Regions from separate parts of the Homo sapiens genome. Here regions 1 and 3 are each linked to region 2. Evidence: fine-mapped expression QTL. A gene starts in region 2. Each other region holds a variant in brackets. All regions are shown on one strand. Distances are from middle to middle.

Region 1 (2,762 bases), 320 kb before region 2:
CTACTTCAAAATTCATACAGAATCAAAAAAGAGCCCACATAGCCAAGACAATCCTAAGCAAAAAGAACAAAGTTGAAGGCATCATGCTACCTGACTTCAAACTATACTGCAAGGCTACAGTAACCAAAACAGCATGGTACTGGTACCAAAACAGACATATAGACTAATGCAACAGAATGGAGACCTCAGAAATAAGACCACACATCTGCAAGCATCTGATCTTCAACAAACCTGACAAAAACAAGCAATGGGGAAAGGATTGCCTGTGTAATAAATGATGCTGGGAAAATTGGCTAGCCATATGCAGAAAACTGAAACTGGATCCCTTCCTTATACCTTATACAAAAATTAACTCAATATGGATTAAAGACTTAAATGTAAAACCCAAAACCATAAAAACTCTAGAAGAAAACCTAGGTAATACCATTCAGGACATAGGCATGGGCAAAGATTTTATGATGAGATCACCAAAAGTAATTACAACAAAAGCTAAAATTGCCAAAGGGATCCAATTAAACTAAAGAGCTTCTCCACAGCAAAAGAAACTATCATCAGAGTGGACAGGCAACCTACAGAATGGGAGAAAATTTTTGCAATCTACCCATCTGACAAAGGGCTAATACTCAGAATCTACAAGGAACTTAAACAATTTTACAAGAAAAAAAAACCCCATCAAAAAGTGGCCAAAGGATATGAACAGACACTTCTTAAAAGAAGACATTTGAGAAAAGGCTCAATATCACAGATCATTAGAGAAATGAAAACCAAAACCACAATGAGATACCATCTCATGCCAGTCACAATGAGGATCATTATGATCATTAAAAAGTCAAGAAACAACAGATGCTGGCGAGGCTGTGCAGAAATAGGAACGCTTTTACACTGTTGGTGGGAATGTAAATGAGTTCAACCATTGTGGAAGACAGTGTGGTGATTCCTCAAGGATCTAGAACCAGAAATACCATTTGACCCAGCAATACCATTACTGGGTGTATACCCAAAGGAATATAAATCATTCAGTTATAAAGATACATGCACACATACGTTTACTGCAGCACTATTCACAATAGCAAAGACATGGAACCAACCCAAATGCCCATCAATCACAGACTGGATAAAGAAAATGTGGTACATATGGAATACTATGTAGCCATAAAAAGAAATGAAATCATGTCCTTTGCAGGGACATGGATGAAGCTGGAAGCCATCATCCTCAGCAAACTAACACAGGAACAGAAAACTAAACACCACTTGTTCTCACTCATAAGTGGGAGTTGAACACTGAGAACACATGGACACAGGGAGGGGAACAACACACACCAGGGCCTATTGAGGGGGCAGTGGAAGGGAGAGAATCATGACAATAGCTAATGCATGTGGGGCTTAAGACCTAGGTGACAGGTTGAGTAGGTGCAGCAAACCACCATGGCACACGTATACCTATGTAACAAACCTGCACATTCTGCAGAGTATCCCGGAACTTAAAGTAAAGAAAAAAAAAAAAA[G/AG]AAAAGAAAAAGCTGTTTCCAGGTCTGGGGCATGAAACATACAAGATGAGCTTGGAGCATTTTGTGCTCCAGAAAGTAAGGAAGCTATCAAAGTTTAATGAGACTCTTCAAAAGTGTTTGAAAGCAACTTAAAGGGGCTTCAACTGGCCAGAGATGGAACAATTTGAGCATCAAAATGAATAATGATTGTGATTGGTTGGAATACACTGACTATATAAAAATCCATGATGAATCTTTTTTTAAAAGACAAAAGAAAATCTCTTTAAAGAGAATGAATTTAGAATTCATCTTGCCTTTCTTATTTAAAAAAAAGTATTTCAGAACACCAAATAGTTCTAGTTTAGGTAGAAAAAAACTCTGTAGAAGAATTTCAACTAATAAATGTAGCAAGAATTACTGCATTAAAAAATCACCGTTTTGCAATCCCTAATGAAATAATTGCTTAAGCAACCTTTAATAGTTGCTAAAAACAATTAGATGAAAGGATAACAATAACTGTACCAAAGTGACAAACCACTGATTTGACATAAGCATAAGTAAGTGGTGGCAGTGTGGGGTGGGGGGCTGCAACTTTATTACAGAAGTACGAGATGATCACTCTTAGCATCCCTAAAACTAGAAAGCAGCATGTGCTTCTGATAGGTTGTAATATGGTGTACCCAGCTCTAGCTATGAAGTATCCTTGTTGAAAATGTTGAATCTGAACTTAATCAAGACTCTAGCTCTAACTTCCAATTCATGGGAAATACAAGGGAAAGAAGGATAGGTTAAATGACATCATTTGGAAGCAACCAAACATATCCCAAATGAGAAGTATTCTACACGACAAATGACCCAGTCTTCAACATGTTGATGGCATGTGTTAAAAAGGAGTGGTGGCTGTAAGAGTACCTTTATAAATCAAAAGGAGTCAAGAGACATGGCAATCAAATGTGTGTACCTTATTTGCACTCTGATTAAAACAAACTAACTGTTAAAAAAAAAAAAAGGACACTTTGGAGAAATTCCAAGTATGGGCTGGGTGTTAAATAATATTATAGAAATATTGCTAATACTGTTGGGTTCTACAGTAGTATAGTGATTATGAAGAAAATGTCCTTATTTTTAAAGATGTGTAAATGTATTGAACTATTTAAGCACAAAAAGTATCAGATTTTCCTGGATATGCTTTAAAGTTCTTCAACCAAAAAATAAAAATAAAAACAAGTATGATGACATGTTAATAGGTATTTAAGATGAGCGTGTGGAGCTTCATTA
Region 2 (2,762 bases):
AAAAACCTTTCCAGGAATGTGAGCTGCCACCAACCTTCATTGGCCCTTAAGTGTTCACTGGGCCCATGGCAAGCACCGCCTTTCTTCTCGCAACCCCTTCCATCATGAAGCAGCTGCACCCCCGGGCTGAGTGGGGTGTTGCACCCACCGGGAGGCCAGCTGCAGATGCCACACAGGGCTTCCGCTCAAGGTTACACAAGTTCTGCTGTGATCAACCCCATTGCAGTCAGGTGCTTAGCACGTGTATATGCTTGATGTCCTATTGACTTCTGGGCATGAACCAGAAGCCCTAAGGGAATGGATTATTATTTTTTTTTTTTTTTTTGAAATGGAGTCTTGCTCTGTTGCCCAGGCTAGAGGCAGTGGCATGATCTCAGCTCACTGCAACCTCCACCTCCCAGGTTCAAGCGATTCTCCTGCCTCAGTCTCCTGAGTAGCTGGGATTACAGGCGCCTGCCAGCACGCCCGGCTCATTTTTGTATTTTTAGTAGAGATGGGGTTTCACCATCTTGGCCAGGCTGTTTTCAAACTCCTCACATTGTGATCCACCCACCTCAGCCTCCCAAAGTGCTGGGATTACAGGCGTGAGCCACCACCACACCCAGCCCTGGGAATGGAGTCTTGATTCTTCTCTGCCCCTCACTGATTCTTCCAAACTGGAAACCCTGAAGCTGAGAGCCCAGCATGGTTCCTGGCAAACAGCAGGCACTCAAATATTGATTGGTTTACTGTATGACTAGTAGAGACCCCAACGAGCAAAACTGTGGCCTAATAAAATTCTGGCTCCTCTCCCAGACTTCCCCTCCCTTTGAGAAATGCCAGAAGCTTCTTAGGGAGGCTCTTGCCAACCTAGACATCACAGGCACTCATGGGGCAGCTCCAGCCTCTTCCTCCTGTCATCACCATAATGCATCCATATCTACAATATGGCAAATTTCATATCCTTCCAACCTCTTTCCTGCATTATTGATGGGCTGTGTGCACTTTTTAAAAAATCAATTAGATCAGGGCGTGGAGCTGGAGTTCAAAGAAGCCTTTAAAAGTCTGCTCTTCTGTTTTGCTGTTTTGAATAGGCACAGATAAAGCTTTCCCTCTGGTTTGAATAAGCCAAGCTCAGTGCTAGGTTGGCTCTGATTGGCCAGGACTAGGAAAATGCGGTTAAGATGCAAACACAAGCAAATATAACCCAGTATCTCTGCGGCCATTACTAAGCTAAGGCAGCAGGACCTGGAGCCTCCTGCTTTGGAGTGGTTCTTCAATACTGCTGCTGCTTACGCGCCGGGAAACTGGGAAGGCTGGTGAGCGAGAAGGCAAGGTAAGGTCTCTGATTTACGGGGGCATGCCAGTTAATCCTCCTGAATGAGGAAGAAATGAAAGGAAGAGGAGCTTGAGAGTCCCTTGGCTTTGTCTTCTGAGATGAGGCTTTTAAAATGAACCAGGAGTCTGGCTGGCCAGTTTTGCAAACTTCTTGTTCAGAAGAACCCCTTAGAGGCAGCTGAACATATAGGGCACATTTTCAAAAGCTGGGAAAGACAGACCCCTTTCACCTATCCCTAGAGAAAGATGGTATGGAGCAAGGCAGGAGGAGTTAAAACCAGCTTCCTGGCCCAGAGAGGTGGCTTACACCTGTAATCCCAACACTTTGGGAAGCCAGGGCATGAGGATTGTTTGAGCCCAGGAGTTTGTAACTTGTGACCATCCTGGGCAACATAGTGAGACCCTGTCTCTACAAAAAAAAAAAAAAAAAAAAAAAAAAAAAAAGCCAAGCATGGTGGTGCACACCTGTGGTCTCAGCTTCTCAGGAGGCTGAGGCAGAAGGATCACTTGAGCCCAGGAGGTGGCGGTTGCAGTGAGCCGTGATTGTACCACTGCACTCCAGCCTGGGTGACAGAGCAAGACCCTGTCTCAAAAACAACAACAACAAAAAACAGCTTCCTCTGCTCAGGGTCCGTCCAAAAGGGCATCTCTGAGAATTACAGGCCACTGGCTTTTAACCTGACATTTCAAAACTGTGCCCCACACCCAAGGGGTTTCTGCAGTCCTCTCAAAGGATACTGAATTAGGATTTAGGGAGAAGGAGAGACCCAGCTTTGGGAGATTTGATGTCAGAACTGTGTTTTCTGTGTGTTCCAGTGTGACAGGAAGTCCCTTCCTGGAGCTTATCCTCTCGCATTCGGGGTGCCTGGCCCAGGGAGCTCCTTGATTCCTAAATTCCTGCTGGGAAACGGGACAGGTTTCAGCCTCTGAGGCTCACAGTCCTAATTGCTGCCGGCTGGTTTGGCTTTTACCAGGGTGACAGTTCTCTGTCTCCAAGGAATGAATTCAGTGGCCCTTGTCCCCTTCCCCTAGTTGGCTCATGGCTTTTGCCTTTAATGACTGCTACGTAGGGTCTGAAGAAAACCCAAACACCATATTTCCTGGCAATTCTGAGCAGCACAGGGTGGGGCAGCACAAGTTATCAAATTAAATTCTCAAACACTGGCTGCTCCGCACCATTGCCTTGCTTTAGTCCTGCTACAGCAGTAGACAAAGCGAGTCTGCTTTGAGCTTTATGGTTTTTTGCCAAAGTCCATACTAGATGGCGCATGCTCTCCAAACTTGGCTTTGTCCATCAAGGTTCAAGAAAACAATGGTCAGACATGTTCCTCTTAACAAACAGTATGTCCCCAAACAGCAAAAATGCATACAGTCCTTTCTGGGTGAATTTTTAAATCTTACATAAATCCATCAACCCCATCCTTTTTCCTTTGCCTCTTGGGAGA
Region 3 (2,762 bases), 160 kb after region 2:
TTTTTTGAGGCAGAGTCTCACTCTGTCACCAGGCTGCAGTGCAGTGGAGCGATCTTGGCTGCAACCTCTGCCTCCTGGGTTCAAGCGATTCTCCTGCCTCACCCTCCTGAGTAGCTGGGACTACTGCTGTGTGCCACCATGCCCAGCTAATTTTTGTATTTTTAGTAGAGATGAGGTTTCACCATGTTGGTCAGGATGGCCTCAAACTCCTGACCTCGTGATCCACCTGCCTTGGCCTCCCAAAGTGCTGGGATTACAGGCATGAGCCACCACACTAGGCCAGAGAAAGGAAAATTTAAGATAGTCCATGGAGAAGAGACTAGACAAAGTTATGCAGATATTAAACCAGAAATGACTTACTTCCTAAAGAGGGAATCAAACCTGGACTGCCAGCGTGAAATGCCAAAACACTAGCTATTGAGCTACAGAACAGGGTAGTCTCTGCTGCCCTTCCCAGAAGAAGTCTAGAGTAGTTAATTTTGAGCTTGCAAAGCCTTTTATCTACTCAAGATAATTTTTAGAGCAACCTATGACATAAACCCTAAAATTCCTGTTCCCTGGAAGGCAGAGACCAAGAGAAAGTACTGCCACATGGTTATAAGGTCAAGCACCCAAGGACATAAAACAAGATGGAGACCCCATCCAGTAGTTTGTTTGTTTGTTTCAGGGACAGGCAGGAAAGTTTGTTATCAACCAGCTTGCTGGGTCATCTTGGGCAGCGAGTTTATGGGGCCCTAAGCCCACGTTTTATCCTAAGGTACCCCTCAACACAGAAAAACAAGTTCATAGCACAAATACATCAGTATGAGACTGGCCTCAGAATTCTTTTTTGCATTAATCACAACTTTACAGAGGAGTAAACAGTGATTTTTACCATTCATTCAACTGTTCGCACAGAGAGAGAGAAACCAGAAATCTGACTGGTAAGAAATTCTTACCCTTGGCTGGGTGTGGTGGCTCATGCCTGTAATCTCAGCACTTTGGGAGGCCGAGGCGGGCAGATCATGAGGTCAGGAGTTCAAGACCAGCCTGGCCAACATAGTGAAACCCCGTCTCTGCTACGAATACAAAAATTAGCCAGGTGTGGTGGCACACACCTGTACTCCCAGCTACTCGGGGGGCTGAGGCAGGAGAATCGCTTGAACCTGGGAGGCAGAGGTTGCAGTGAGCTGAGATCATGCCACTGCCCTTGTAAAAGAGCGAGACTTTGACTCAAAAAAAAAAAAGAAAAAAATTCTTACCCTTTTGCCAGCATGCCAGGCTTCTGGGTTCCTTTTCCCTGAGTGGCCCCAGTGACCCAGCTTGC[C/T]GCATCATCACGCTGGGGGCCAAGCTGCATCATAAAGGAAAATTATCTTTTTTGGTTCTGACCAGAGTAAAATATGTGTAATAAAACATAGACATTGGCCACTCTTCTTATCACCCAATATCAAACTGATAAGCCTTAAATTTGCCCTCACATGGGCCCCTTCATCTTTAATCCAACCTCCGACTAGGAGTTTGGATTAAACTAGAGACACGTGGTCTCTGGGCAAGATGGTTGCCCTGAGTAACAGAAAAGATAAAAAAGGGAAAGGAGAGAGAGAGAGAGAGAGAAAGCATTGCCTGTGGCGGGGTGGGAAGGCAAAATGCTCAGGGAGTCTAGAGAAAGACCCACATTGAAAAGCTCAGGTGGCTGCAGCTGCTGTCATGAAGGGATTTTTTTTTCCAACAGTCCCATCAGCTCTCAAGTTTCCCCTTTTGGGGAAGGAAAACACTCCCCATGTCCCACGACCCTCTCTATGCCTAATCCTGTCACCCATAGTCATCAGCAAAGAGTGCAAGGCAGATTATTCCAAAGAGAATAGCAGTTGACATCCTGTAGTGCCAAATTTGTTCTTAGCCAAAAGGGACTTTACTGAGAGCCTTTTTTTTTTTTTTTTTTTTTTTGACAGAGTCTCACTCTGTTGCCAGGCTGGAGTGCAGTGGCCCAATCTCCACTGCGATCTCGGCTCATTGCAATCTCCAACTCCCTGGTTCAAGTGATTCTGCTGCCTCAGCCTCCTGAGTAGCTGGGATTATAGGCACACACCACAATGCCCAGCTAATTTTTGTATTTTTAGTAGAGACGGGGTTTCACCTTGTTGGCCAGGATGGTCTGGATCTCCTAACCTCATGATCTGCCCGCCTTGGCCTCCCGAAGTGCTGAGATTACAGGTATGAGCCACTGCGCCTGGTCAAGGGTCTTCATTTTTAAATGTACTTCAATGCATTGCTGTTCATTCAGAACATTCCACTGTAAGTTATCTTTAGTAAGATTTTGCCATTTCTGTAAGACTTCGCTGCCTCCCAGGCCTAAAGTATAAGCCAGAAGGAACTCAGTTTTCCAGAAATTAAGGATCCCATTTTTACCTAAAATATTGGCTTTACTCTCAGGTTCTCTTAACTTAGCCAATAATTTTTCCTACCTAAGCATGCAAGAAAAATGAAGCAAAAGGGTAGAACACAAAAATCCCTGTGAAGTTTCAAAAGCCAAATTTTATAATCCCTGAAATATTACTGCTTACTACCAGTTCCTTTCTGACCCATTCAGATGTAAGACACCTCTAATTGGATCCAAGCCAGTTCATTACTGGATCAAATCCATTCCTGGACCCAGTCCAGTTTCTGTTGCAACTCCAAACCTAGTTTGAACCAGATATTTGCTCAAAGGAACTTGGAGAGCTCAAAACACAAGTCTGTGGAACTCTGAAATCCAAGAGGAAGCTTACTCACGATCCCCAGTC

The links. PIP is the estimated chance that this variant, and not a neighbour inherited with it, causes the effect. A credible set is the group of variants that fine-mapping cannot tell apart.
Region 1: its variant is the best candidate, but not a certain one, in a credible set for the expression of AVIL in whole blood (INTERVAL, PIP 0.67).
Region 3: its variant is the best candidate, but not a certain one, in a credible set for the expression of AVIL in blood mononuclear cells (TOPMed, PIP 0.59).

The regions. Positions count from the first base shown.
Region 1 is chr12:58,134,756-58,137,517 of GRCh38, reverse strand. No RefSeq gene overlaps it. Among named protein-coding and RNA genes, the nearest start is that of LINC02403, 48 kb to the right of the region's middle. The variant G/AG (reference allele first, on the strand shown) is at 1,506.
Region 2 is chr12:57,817,182-57,819,943 of GRCh38, reverse strand. AVIL (advillin) reads left to right here and starts at 1,210. Exons shown (of 20, transcript NM_006576.4): 1 at 1,210-1,315. It overlaps CTDSP2 (CTD small phosphatase 2), which reads left to right. Exons shown (of 8, transcript NM_005730.4): 8 at 1-17.
Region 3 is chr12:57,657,884-57,660,645 of GRCh38, reverse strand. No RefSeq gene overlaps it. Among named protein-coding and RNA genes, the nearest start is that of B4GALNT1, 26 kb to the right of the region's middle. The variant C/T (reference allele first, on the strand shown) is at 1,307.